Linked DNA regions of Homo sapiens: all the other regions are linked to region 2. Evidence: fine-mapped expression QTL. A gene starts in region 2. Each other region holds a variant in brackets. All regions are shown on one strand. Distances are between the middles of the regions.

Region 1 (4,087 bases), 25 kb after region 2:
TCTCTTGACTTTTCTAGAAGTTTTAATCCAAGTCCTTGTTGGGTGGTAGATAAAAGGGTATTGTTCTACTAGAGACTGACCTTGGCATGGAGATCTCATTTGGACTCACAGATTTCTAGTCTAGCGCTTGGTTTTGTATCCATACCTCGCTACTGCATTCTTAGTTCCTTCTGCTCCTTGTTCCTCATGCCCAGTGTCCCACCCTACCCTTGCCCCTACTCCTCTAGAGGCCACAGTGATTCACTGAGCCATTTCATAAGCACAGCTAGGAGAGTTCATGGCTACCAAGTGCCAGCAGGGCCGAATTTTCACCTGTGTGTCCTCCCTTCCATTTTTCATCTTCTGCCCCCTCCCCAGCTTTAACTTTAATATAACTACTTGGGACTATTCCAGCATTAAATAAGGGTAACTGCTGGATGGGTGGCTGGGATACACAGAATGTAGTATCCCTTGTTCACGAGAAGACCTTCTTGCCCTAGCATGGCAAACAGTCCTCCAAGGAGGCACCTGTGACACCCAACGGAGTAGGGGGGCGGTGTGTTCAGGTGCAGGTGGAACAAGGCCAGAAGTGTGCATATGTGCTGACCATGGGAGCTTGTTTGTCGGTTTCACAGTTGATGCCCTGAGCCTGCCATAGCAGACTTGTTTCTCCATGGGATGCTGTTTTCTTTCCAGAGACACAGCGCTAGGGTTGTCCTCATTACCTGAGAGCCAGGTGTCGGTAGCATTTTCTTGGTGTTTACTCACACTCATCTAAGGCACGTTGTGGTTTTCCAGATTAGGAAACTGCTTTATTGATGGTGCTTTTTTTTTTTTTTTTTGAGACAGAGTCTCGCTCTGTCGCCATGCTGGAGTGTAGTGGCACAATCTTGGCTCACTGCACCTCCGCCTGCCAGGTTCAGCGATTCTCCTGCCTCAGCCTCCCAAGTAGCTGGGACTACAGGTGCCTGCCACCATGCCCAGCTAATTTTTGTATTTTTAGTAGAGACGGGGTTTCACCGTATTGGCTAGGATGGTCTCGATTTCTTGACCTCGTGATCCGCCTGCCTCGGCCTCCCAAAGTGCTGGGATTATAGGCTTGAGCCACCACGCCTGGCCGATGGTGCTTTTTATCATTTGAAGGACTCAGTTGTATAACCCACTGAAAATTAGTATGTAAGGAAGTTCAGGGAATAGTATAAGTCACTCCAGGCTTGAGGCAAAATTTACAAATGCTGCTGACTTTGTATGTAAGGGGAGGCATTTTCTTAGAAAAGAGAGGTAGGTCTCTGGGATTCCAGTATGCCATTTCCATCCTCAGTGTTTTTGGCCACCTGAGAGAGGTCTATTTTCAGAAATGCATTCTTCATTCCCAGATGATAACATCTATAGAACTAAAATGATTAGGACCATAACACGTAGCTCCTAGCCTGCTGTCGGAACACCTCCCGAGTCCCTCTTTGTGGGTGAACCCAGAGGCTGGGAGCTGGTGACTCATGATCCATTGAGAAGCAGTCATGATGCAGAGCTGTGTGTTGGAGGTCTCAGCTGAGAGGGCTGGATTAGCAGTCCTCATTGGTGTATGGCTTTGCAGCAATAACTGATGGCTGTTTCCCCTCCTGCTTTATCTTTCAGTTAATGACCAGCCACGG[C/GC]GTCCCTGCTGTGAGCTCTGGCCGCTGCCTTCCAGGGCTCCCGAGCCACACGCTGGGGGTGCTGGCTGAGGGAACATGGCTTGTTGGCCTCAGCTGAGGTTGCTGCTGTGGAAGAACCTCACTTTCAGAAGAAGACAAACAGTAAGCTTGGGTTTTTCAGCAGCGGGGGGTTCTCTCATTTTTTCTTTGTGGTTTTGAGTTGGGGATTGGAGGAGGGAGGGAGGGAAGGAAGCTGTGTTGGTTTTCACACAGGGATTGATGGAATCTGGCTCTTATGGACACAGGACTGTGTGGTCCGGATATGGCATGTGGCTTATCATAGAGGGCAGATTTGCAGCCAGGTAGAAATAGTAGCTTTGGTTTGTGCTACTGCCCAGGCATGAGTTCTGATCCCTAGGACCTGGCTCCGAATCGCCCCTGAGCACCCCACTTTTTCCTTTTGCTGCAGCCCTGGGAGCCACCTGGCTCTCCAAAAGCCCCTAATGGGCCCCTGTATTTCTGGAAGCTGTGGGTGAAGTGAGTTAGTGGCCCCACTCTTAGAGATCAATACTGGGTATCTTGGTGTCAATCTGGATTCTTTCCTTCAGGCCTGGAGGAATATAATAACTGAGACTTGTTTTATTTCTGCAGAGGGTTCTAAGCCATTCACTTCCCAGATGGGCCAATAATGCTTTGAGTAATCTGGAGATCATCTTTAATGCGCAGGTGAATGGAACTCTTCCACAGAGGGATGTGAGGGCTGTAGAGCAGAGTGAACTCCCTGAAACTCAGACGTCAGCTCTTTGTCTCTCTATCTCTGAACACCCTTCCTTAGAGATCCCATCTCTAGGATGCATTTCTCTGTAGTTAGTTTCTAAGTCTCTTGTTCCTGTTCTGCCTTTATTTTTTTTTCCTGGATTCTAAGCCAGTATCCCCACTTGGCTGTCTTAATGTAGCTTAACATGTCTGTAATCAAAATGATCATCTTTCTGAGATTCAAAGGGCTATAAGGGACTTTGGAGAGAATTTCATTCAGTTTTCCTCAAACTAGAATAATGCTTGCACTGTCTGTAAAAGAACAAAAGTGTCAAAGCATCCTTTTGTTCACTAAATTTCCTTTTTTATTATAGTGTTACTTAAATATTAGGAAGTAAAAGTAGGTATAAACTTCTTATAGGCTGTTATTATACAACTATATGACCCATACATATTTACAAATTAAGTGCAGCCAAAATTGCAAAATCAATACCATTCAAATTAATACCTTAAATGTGGTGAGGCAGCTGTTGTTCAACTGAAACCAAATTATAAGTTGCATGGCAGTAAATGCTATCATGCTGATCATTTTGAGTTTGGCCAGTCTATATTATCATGTGCTAATGATTGAATTCTCCACCCATTTTTCTACTTGTATGACCTTAATTTGATGGCACCTGTTCCATCCTCATGAGTTTGCTACAATTATACTGGTGCCAACACAATCATAAACACAAATATAAACTTGGGCTTTGAAATCTTGTGCCAGAACTTGGCTTTAAAGTAAGCATTTAAAAAATCCATATGTGTTTATTAGACTTTGTTTAGATGACTGTTGAAATGAAAACAAAGTGTTTAAAATCCTCTTAGAGAACTTAAATATAATCCCTCAGCAATATGTATACAGATCTTCCTTTGAGAAAAACTGATTGTGTTCAGCCTCTCATGTTACAAATGGGGAACCTGAATTCTGAGGTCTCTAGTGAGAGAACAGGGACTGGAATCTGTGGATCCTATCTGTTTTAATAATAATTGTAAAGTATAATAGATAATATTATATTAATAAAATAAAAGCAAACACTTAGAATGAGCTTCCATGTGTGAGGCACTAACTGATTAGGCATTATTAACTAGATTTATTCCTTTTAAGGCCCCGCGATGTACTGTTATTTCCACATGTTGTAGCTGGGGAACGTGCTACTCAGAGAGGTTAAGTAACTTGTCTGAGGTCCACACCACTAACAAGGAGCACAGGTAGGGTTCAAATCCAGATAATCTGACTTTGGAGCTGGCACTCTAACTCAATGTGCCTAATCGCTTTTCAGTGGTGTCATTATTTTGCCTATTCTCCATCTGAGAATATTGAAGTTTCTGACTCCTTCCTTGCCTTTCTCCCTGCCTCCCGTGGTTATCCCCAGGTCTTGGTGTTCCAGTCCTCTATGTCCGTCCTTACTCTTATTCCTTTGCTACAGTGTGATCCAGGGCTCCTGCCCCTTCTTATCCTGGTAGAGGGGGCCCACTTGCTGGGAAATTGTCTCCGCCATGGTTTATCCATGTTGTGTGTCCATTAGTGAGTAGTGGGAAGAATCATATCATGTTGGCAATGAAAGGGGGGCTATGGCTCTGGGGTAGTCTAGTCTGAACCTCTTATTTTACGGATGAGAAAGCTGAGGTACAAAGCAGGGAAGGGATTTCTTGAGGTCACCCAGCCAGCAACTGAG
Region 2 (4,087 bases):
TCTTGCTCTGTCACTCAGGCTGGAGTGCAGTGGCATGATCTCGACTCACTGTAACCTCTGCCTCCCGGGTTCAAGCGATTCTCCTGCCTCAGCCTCCTGAGATAACAGGCGCTCGCCACCACATCTGGCTAATTTTTGTATTTTTAGTAAAGACTGGGTTTCATCATGTTGGCCAGGTTGGTTTCGAACTCCTGACCTGAGGTGAGCTGCCCACCTTGGCCTCCCAAAGTGCTGGGATTACAGGCATGAGCCACTGCGCCCAGCTCAGATCCATCCCTTTCTAAGGGCAAACAGTCCATGGTGCAAAGGGGCCATGCCACCCAGAGTTATGAGTACCTGGGACTCCAGAATTCCTTGCCTGGTGGCCTCCACATGCACTTCCAGGGCCTGCTTGGGCCTCTTCTATGGGTCTGTCCTGAGTGTTGATAGAACCACTGATGTGAGTACCTGGGCTTGAGCCGTGGCCTGGAGATCCTGTTGACTGTAGCATGGAGGGGGCTTGTGCAGCTGAATGTCTGTATGCAGGTGGTGGGAGTTCTGGAATATGATGGAGCTGGAGGTGGGAAGAGAAGTAGGCTTGGGGCAGCTCTCTCATGCCACCTCATTCTGGCCAAAACTCAGGTCAAACTGTGAAGAGTCTAAATGTGAATCTGCCCTTCAAGGTGGCTACAAAGGTATCTTTGTCAAGGTAGGAGACCTTGTGGCCTCCACGTGCACTTCCAGGGCCTGCTTGGGCCTCTTCTACGGGTCTGTCCTGAGTCTTCTATGAATCTGCCCTTCAGGGCAGATTCATATTTAGACTCTTCACAGTTTGACCTGAGTTTTGGCCAGAATAAGGTGACATTTAGTTTGTTGGCTTGATGGATGACTTAAATATTTAGACATATGGTGTGTAGGCCTGCATTCCTACTCTTGCCTTTTTTTTTGCCCCTCCAGTGTTTTGGGTAGTTTTGCTCCCCTACAGCCAAAGGCAAACAGATAAGTTGGAGGTCTGGAGTGGCTACATAATTTTACACGACTGCAATTCTCTGGCTGCACTTCACAAATGTATACAAACTAAATACAAGTCCTGTGTTTTTATCACAGGGAGGCTGATCAATATAATGAAATTAAAAGGGGGCTGGTCCATATTGTTCTGTGTTTTTGTTTGTTTGTTTCTTTTTTTGTTTTTGTGGCCTCCTTCCTCTCAATTTATGAAGAGAAGCAGTAAGATGTTCCTCTCGGGTCCTCTGAGGGACCTGGGGAGCTCAGGCTGGGAATCTCCAAGGCAGTAGGTCGCCTATCAAAAATCAAAGTCCAGGTTTGTGGGGGGAAAACAAAAGCAGCCCATTACCCAGAGGACTGTCCGCCTTCCCCTCACCCCAGCCTAGGCCTTTGAAAGGAAACAAAAGACAAGACAAAATGATTGGCGTCCTGAGGGAGATTCAGCCTAGAGCTCTCTCTCCCCCAATCCCTCCCTCCGGCTGAGGAAACTAACAAAGGAAAAAAAAATTGCGGAAAGCAGGATTTAGAGGAAGCAAATTCCACTGGTGCCCTTGGCTGCCGGGAACGTGGACTAGAGAGTCTGCGGCGCAGCCCCGAGCCCAGCGCTTCCCGCGCGTCTTAGGCCGGCGGGCCCGGGCGGGGGAAGGGGACGCAGACCGCGGACCCTAAGACACCTGCTGTACCCTCCACCCCCACCCCACCCACCTCCCCCCAACTCCCTAGATGTGTCGTGGGCGGCTGAACGTCGCCCGTTTAAGGGGCGGGCCCCGGCTCCACGTGCTTTCTGCTGAGTGACTGAACTACATAAACAGAGGCCGGGAACGGGGCGGGGAGGAGGGAGAGCACAGGCTTTGACCGATAGTAACCTCTGCGCTCGGTGCAGCCGAATCTATAAAAGGAACTAGTCCCGGCAAAAACCCCGTAATTGCGAGCGAGAGTGAGTGGGGCCGGGACCCGCAGAGCCGAGCCGACCCTTCTCTCCCGGGCTGCGGCAGGGCAGGGCGGGGAGCTCCGCGCACCAACAGAGCCGGTTCTCAGGGCGCTTTGCTCCTTGTTTTTTCCCCGGTTCTGTTTTCTCCCCTTCTCCGGAAGGCTTGTCAAGGGGTAGGAGAAAGAGACGCAAACACAAAAGTGGAAAACAGGTAAGAGGCTCTCCAGTGACTTACTTGGGCGTTATTGTTTTGTTTCGAGGCCAAGGAGGCTTCGGGAAGTGCTCGGTTTCGGGGACTTTGATCCGGAGCCCCACATCCCCACCACTTGCAACTCAGATGGGACCGGAGGCGGTGTTAAATGGGGAGACGATGTCCTAGTACGAGCTCTGGTGACCCCAGGACTCTGCGCTGCTGCGCTTGGGGCTTGCCCGACGGTGGAGACCGGGGAGCATCTCTGGGCGTGGAGACCCGGGCGCAGTACCCCGGGCTCAGAGGGGTCGGGGGTTCCCGGGCGTGCTGAGGGCGCTGCTGCCGGGTGGGGAGAGCTGCAGGTCCGGCACCGAGCGCTGCTTTGTTCGGAGGGCCCTGAGCTGGCTAGAAACCCTTCTGGTTGCAGGTCGGCCAGTACCTACGGAGACAAATGCCAGCACTGAGTCTTCACTCGGTTCTTAAGAAGCTGGTCTGTTCTGACCTGGGAATTGGCTATATGCTCCCCGGGACTGGAGCGGCACAGTCCCGGACTGTGAATCCGGGAACTCGAGTTGGAGGTGTCCCAAACGGTCCGTGGTGCTATTGCTCACTAGAGGCCTTGGGTCTTTGTTTGACCTGAGGGGTAGGGAGGTCCTGCCTACAGTCTCCGTGCGCTCAGCTGAGCTGGTGTCCCTGGCGCAGAGCGCGGACGAGTTTTGTTTCCTTTTCTTTTTCTTTTTTTTCTTTCCTTTAAGTCTCGGTCTGTCGCCCAGGCTGGAGTGCAATGGAACGATCTCCGCTCACTGCAACCTCCGCCTCCCGGGTTCAAGCGATTCTCCTGCCTCAGCCTCCTGAGTAGCTGGGATTACAGGCGCGTCACCACATCCAGCTAATTTTTGTATTTTTAGTAGAGACGGGGTTTCAACTTGTTGGCCAGGCTGGTCTCGAACCCTCGACCTCAGGTGATCCACCGGCCTCGGCCTCCCCAAGTGCTGGGATTATAGGCGTGAGCCACCGCGCGCGGCCGAGTTTTGTTTCTTTTAAAAACAAGACTTAGGAGAGCCTGCGGAGACCCGGAGGTGGGGTGCCCAATCCTCCCTCTCCCACGTTCCCTGCAGCCCCATCTTCCAGACCGTTGCTGCTGGTCTCTCGGGGCAGCTTCTGCCTGGGCGCAGATGGGGAAGCTGGGCCGAGGTGGTGCCGTGGAATGACCGGGAGTAACCCCGGCGGGCGGCGCAGAACTCGGAGCTCCGCCGCGGGGCTGGGCTGGGCTCTGCCGTGAGGGTGGGGGTGCTGGGCGCGCGGGCTGCGGTGGCCCCCGGAGACTGGCCCGCAGCGCCTCCTGGCCGGAGGACCTAGGAATCGGCCGGCTCTACTAGGTGTCTTTGCTCGCGGTTCCGACTGTGAATCCGGTGAAGACCGGTGGTTGCAGACGGGGAGGAACTATGAGGTTGAGGCGAAAGCCCGTTTTGTTTTTTTTTTTTTGTTTTTTTGGTTTTTTTTTTTGTTAGCGTGTTTGCCAACTCCCAGGCCATTGGTAAAGCAGGAAGGTTCTTGGGGCGGCGGACGGTGCCAGGGTTATGTGTAGGTGCCTCTTTAGGTATATCTTTTATCAAAAAGAAGCAAAGAAATAAGATTAAAAATAAACAAAGAAAAAAGTTGTCTGGCACTGGCAGTAATTGGCCTGCCTTTGCAGCACTGATACCATTAGCTTTTAAAATCCGACTTTTCATTGACACTTCAAGAAGAGAATGGGTAGTATATACACATTCATCTCATAGTGGACAAATTTCATATTTAAAAAAACCTTCTGGGTACTGAAATCAGCAAGTCACTTGCCCTCCATGGCCGAATCCCTGCTTCCCACGAAGAGAACCTCACAAAAATTTCCCCCAAGTTAAAGAGTGGAATTTTCTTGATTTTTTTTTCTTTTTTTTTTAACGGCCGTAGTTTAGAACCCAGACTTAAATTATGATCTTCTT
Region 3 (4,087 bases), 30 kb after region 2:
CCGCCAGGAAGACTAGAAACGCTATGTTCAGCCTGGAGCTGAATGGTATACCCCAGAGCAACCCTGTTGAAAGGCAGTGCTTGCCTTTTCATTCTGTGTCCTGGTTTGCTGGTAACTCCTGGGTCCCCTGCCTCTCCTGTACCCCCATTGTGCAGACTGAGGGGGGACCATCAGCCAGGGTTAGTTTTCCGCTGTTTCTGTTAGGCAAAGAATAAATTGAATTGAGTTGTGAAAGTTGGGTGCAAAGCTCAGTTTGGGTCCAAAGTAACAGTTAACTTGTGTGGGTGGCAGGTATTCAGTACAAACAGGGCTGGGGACAGGAAGGGGAAGAGAACTTCAGAGCTTTCACGATCCTCATCTGGTTTTAGGCTGATCCAGAGGCCAAGGTCCCCATGGAACAAACTGGACAAAGTGAGGGTGGCCACATGGCCTCTTTTCTTTTGCCTTTATTATTAATTTTCTCAAATAGATCTGACTAGTCATGTGGCTGGGAAAATAGTTAATTGTGATTTTTTTTTTTTTAAACTGAGTCTCACTCTATTGCCCAGGCTGGAGTGCAGTGGTATGATCTCAGCTCGCCGCAACCTCTGCCTCCCGGGATCAAGCAATTGTCATGCCTCAGCCTCCCGGGTAGCTGGGATTATGGGCACACAGCACCACGCCTGGCTAATTTTTGTATTTTTAGTAGAGACATGGTTTTAGCATGTTGGCCAGGCTGGTCTTGAACTCCTGACCTCAAGTGATCCACCCACCTCAGCCTTCCAATCTGCTGGGATTACAGGCATGAGCCACTGCACCCAGCCAGAGTACCACTATTTGGGCATTCTTTAATGAAAAAGAATGAACTATCCAAAAATTAAAACTCCTCATTTATGAGCTTTTAGAGAATTTTACAGAGTAGATGGAAACTCTCTGCATCCTTTCCCCACTTCTAGTTTCACCTGACACATTTCTTCCCTGTCCTTACTCCTGGGCCGGCAGCAGTGGTCATGATTCCAATCCCAGCTTGGCCACCATCTGCCTCAGTGGCCTAGGAAAACTCCTTTCTCCAGAGCTTTAGTTTTCTCTTCTACGGAATGAAGAAAGTTAAAACAAATAGACATTTATTGTTTCATTTGGATAAATATCTATTAAGCATCTATTACTTGTGGTATGGTTAGCTGGGTATATAGTGGTGAAGCAGCTGGGCATGAGTACTGCTTTCGTAGAGCTTACAGTTCAGTGAGGCCAGCAGATGTGAAACATATCATCACACAAATAAAAATATAACTATCAACTGTGATGAGGATTATGAAGGAAAAAATCCGGCAAACTATGGTACTGGTGTTAGATACTAGCAGGTGTGGGTAGGGATTTCATTTAGATTGACAGGTTGTCACATTAAAGCTGAGAGCCCTGAAGTTCAAGCAATGGTTAGCCAGGCAAAGATCAGAGGCTTAGAGATAGGGAAATCCATTCCAGGCAGAGAGACTGGGGGTGCCTGTCCCCTAGGTCAGGGAACAGAAGAAAGCCAGTGGCACTGGTGGAGTGAATAAGACTGGCGGGGGATGAGTTGGTAGTAGACATGACCAGATCATTTAGGGCCAATTCTCCTGGGGAAGGAGAATTTAATTTAATATTTATTTATTTATTTATTTATTTATTTATTTATTTATTT[ATTTATTTT/T]TCAAGACGGAGTCTAGTTCTGTCGCCCAGGCTGGAGTGCAGTGGAGCAATCTCGGCTCACTGCAACTTTTGCCTCCTGGTTTCAAGCGATTCTCCTGCCTCAGCCTCCTAGTAGCTGGGATTACAGACGCCCACCACCATGCCCAGCTAATTTTTGTATTTTTATAGAGATGCGGTTTCACCATATTGGCCAGGCTGGTCTGAAACTCCTGACCTTGTGATCCTCCTACCTCGGCTTCCCAAAGTGCTGGGATTACAGGCGTGACCCACAGTGCCCCCTGAGAATTTAATTTTATTTTATGTGCAAGAGGATTCCCTGAGGTAGTCAGGCCACATTGTCTGGTGACTCTTGGGATAGAGGGAACTTGAATGACAAAGGCCCAAGAAAGCAATTGTAATCATTACATATACATGGACCATTTTATGCTGTTTTCTTCTTTCATTTAACATTATTTAGTGTGCGTGTTCACATATTTCTAAATCATCTTCTGATTTAGAATAATGATTTCTGATGTGTAGGCTGTGTTTTATAGTTTTGAAAGTAATACTTTGATATCCATTACTTTCTTGATTCTCACAGCAATTCTGAGGTGTATGCGTTGCAATTTCTGTTTCACAGATGAAGAGAGTATTGTTAATAAGTTAATGGCCGGGCATGGTGGCTCACACCTATAATTCCAGCACTTTGGGAGACCAAGGTGGGCGGATCACTTGAGGCCAGGAATTTGAGACCAGCCTGGTCAATGTGGTGACACCCATCTCTACTAAAAATACAAAAATTAGCCAGGCGTGGTAGCACTTGCCTGTAATCCCAGCTATTTGGGAGGGTGAGGCAGGAGAATTTGCTTGAACCTGGCAGGTGGAAGTTGCAGTGAGCCAAGATTGCACCACTGTACTCCTGCCTGGGTGACAGAGCGAGACTCTGTCTCAAAAAATAAAAAGTTGCTAAGAGGAGGGCTGGGATCTTTTGGCTCCAAATCTACTGTGGGATGATGCCTTTGACATTCCTGATAGCTGTGCAGTAATCCATTAACACAGTTTTTATAAGTTCAAACCCTGTTGCCAACATTTAGATTGTTCCATGTGTGCTGTTACAAATAAATTACTATAAAGATTCTATACATTTAATCTTTTATTATTTTTGTATTATTTCTGTAGGCCAAAATCTGAGGAACAGGATTACTAGGTTGAAGGGAAATGGCCCTTGAAGTGTCTGATCAGATGTCTTTCCAGAGGATCCAACCAATTTAAATAGCCACCATCAATGCATGAGACTTTGTAGTTCAGGGAAGGCAGGCCTGGTTTTAAAAATCATTTCCCCTCTCTAGCATTTTTCTGATGTGATCCTTAAGATTTCACTTTAGTTTTCCCAGGTCTCATTGGCATGTATGCTGTTAGGGATGGGTCTAAAATTAATTTTTCTTCACATTCATATCATGTCATCCCAGTGATTATTTAATAAATAATCACTTGATTAAATAGTGATTCCTTTTCTAGTTATTTTTGGGACATTTATTAAAACCTGGATATGGTGGCTCATGCCTGTATTCCCAGCACTTTGGGAGGCTGAGGTGGGGGGATTGCTTGAGACTAGGAGTTCAACACCAGCCTGGGCAGCATAGCAAGACTCCATCTCTATAAAAATAAGGAAATTAGTCAGGCATGGTGGTACTTGCCTGGAGTCCCAGCTACTTGGAAGGCTGAGGTAGGAGAATTGCTTGAGTCCAGGTGGTCAAGGCTGCAGTGAGCTATGACCATACTACTGTACTCCAGCCTGGGCAACAGAGTGAAACTCTGTCTGAAAAAAAAAAAAAAAAAAAAAAAAAAAAAAAAAAAAAGATGTGTAGGGAGCAATTTTGGAGTTATTCATTTGGTCATTTGATATGTAGTTTTAGTTTTGGTGCTGATAGAGCCCAGAATGTACCCTGAATTTGATGAACATTCTGATATATGGGGGAGCTCATTGTCCCCCACTTACCTTTTTGCCTCTCAGAATATCTTTTGATATTTTTATCTGTTTTTTCCCCATTGAATGTTATTACCTTATCAAGCTCAAAAAAGTACCCTATCGCTATTTTAAGTTCAGTTGTGTTAAATCTATAAATTAGCTTGGGAAATTTGGATATTAAATGAACTCATGAAGAAGCAGAGTTTAGCTCTCCTTAATTCTCATCTTCCTTTATTTATCCTACTACAGTTCTGTGGTTTTCTTTTATGTAAGAAGCACATGTTTGGCTAAGTTAATGCCTAGGTTTTTTTGTTTATGTGTCCATTCTCACTGTGGATAGTATTCTCTTTTCCCCACATTATATTAATTTAACTGGTTTTCAGAGACTAATAGCAATGCTATTATTTAGGAGAATTTACCTTGGTTCTGATTAACTTACCCATACTTGCAAATCATTTGCAGCTTTTTAGTTAA

Direction of the effects. Positions count from the first base shown, and alleles are read on the strand shown. Sizes are in standard deviations (SD) of each study's normalised expression. Not every link is listed here.
In carriers of allele ATTTATTTT in region 3, the expression in fetal neocortex of the gene that starts at base 1,906 in region 2 tends to be lower than with T alone (small effect, 0.33 SD a copy in Walker 2019).

What was found. PIP is the estimated chance that this variant, and not a neighbour inherited with it, causes the effect. A credible set is the group of variants that fine-mapping cannot tell apart.
Region 1: its variant is the best candidate, but not a certain one, in a credible set for the expression of ABCA1 in nasal epithelium (TOPMed, PIP 0.60).
Region 3: its variant is the best candidate, but not a certain one, in a credible set for the expression of ABCA1 in fetal neocortex (Walker 2019, PIP 0.89).

The regions. Positions count from the first base shown.
Region 1 is chr9:104,901,299-104,905,385 of GRCh38, reverse strand. ABCA1 (ATP binding cassette subfamily A member 1) reads left to right here. Exons shown (of 50, transcript NM_005502.4): 2 at 1,615-1,772. The coding sequence starts at 1,707. Among named protein-coding and RNA genes, the nearest start is that of ABCA1, 25 kb to the left of the region's middle. RefSeq lists an enhancer at 1,301-2,213. The variant C/GC (reference allele first, on the strand shown) is at 1,632.
Region 2 is chr9:104,925,974-104,930,060 of GRCh38, reverse strand. It overlaps ABCA1 (ATP binding cassette subfamily A member 1), which reads left to right and starts at 1,906. Exons shown (of 50, transcript NM_005502.4): 1 at 1,906-2,126. LOC105376196 (a long non-coding RNA gene) reads right to left here and starts at 3,272. Exons shown (of 3, transcript NR_188620.1): 1 at 2,151-3,272; 2 at 337-553. RefSeq lists silencers at 1,747-1,936, 3,273-3,512 and enhancers at 2,137-2,216, 2,537-2,596.
Region 3 is chr9:104,896,128-104,900,214 of GRCh38, reverse strand. All of the region lies in intron 2 of ABCA1 (ATP binding cassette subfamily A member 1), which reads left to right. Among named protein-coding and RNA genes, the nearest start is that of ABCA1, 30 kb to the left of the region's middle. The variant ATTTATTTT/T (reference allele first, on the strand shown) is at 1,658.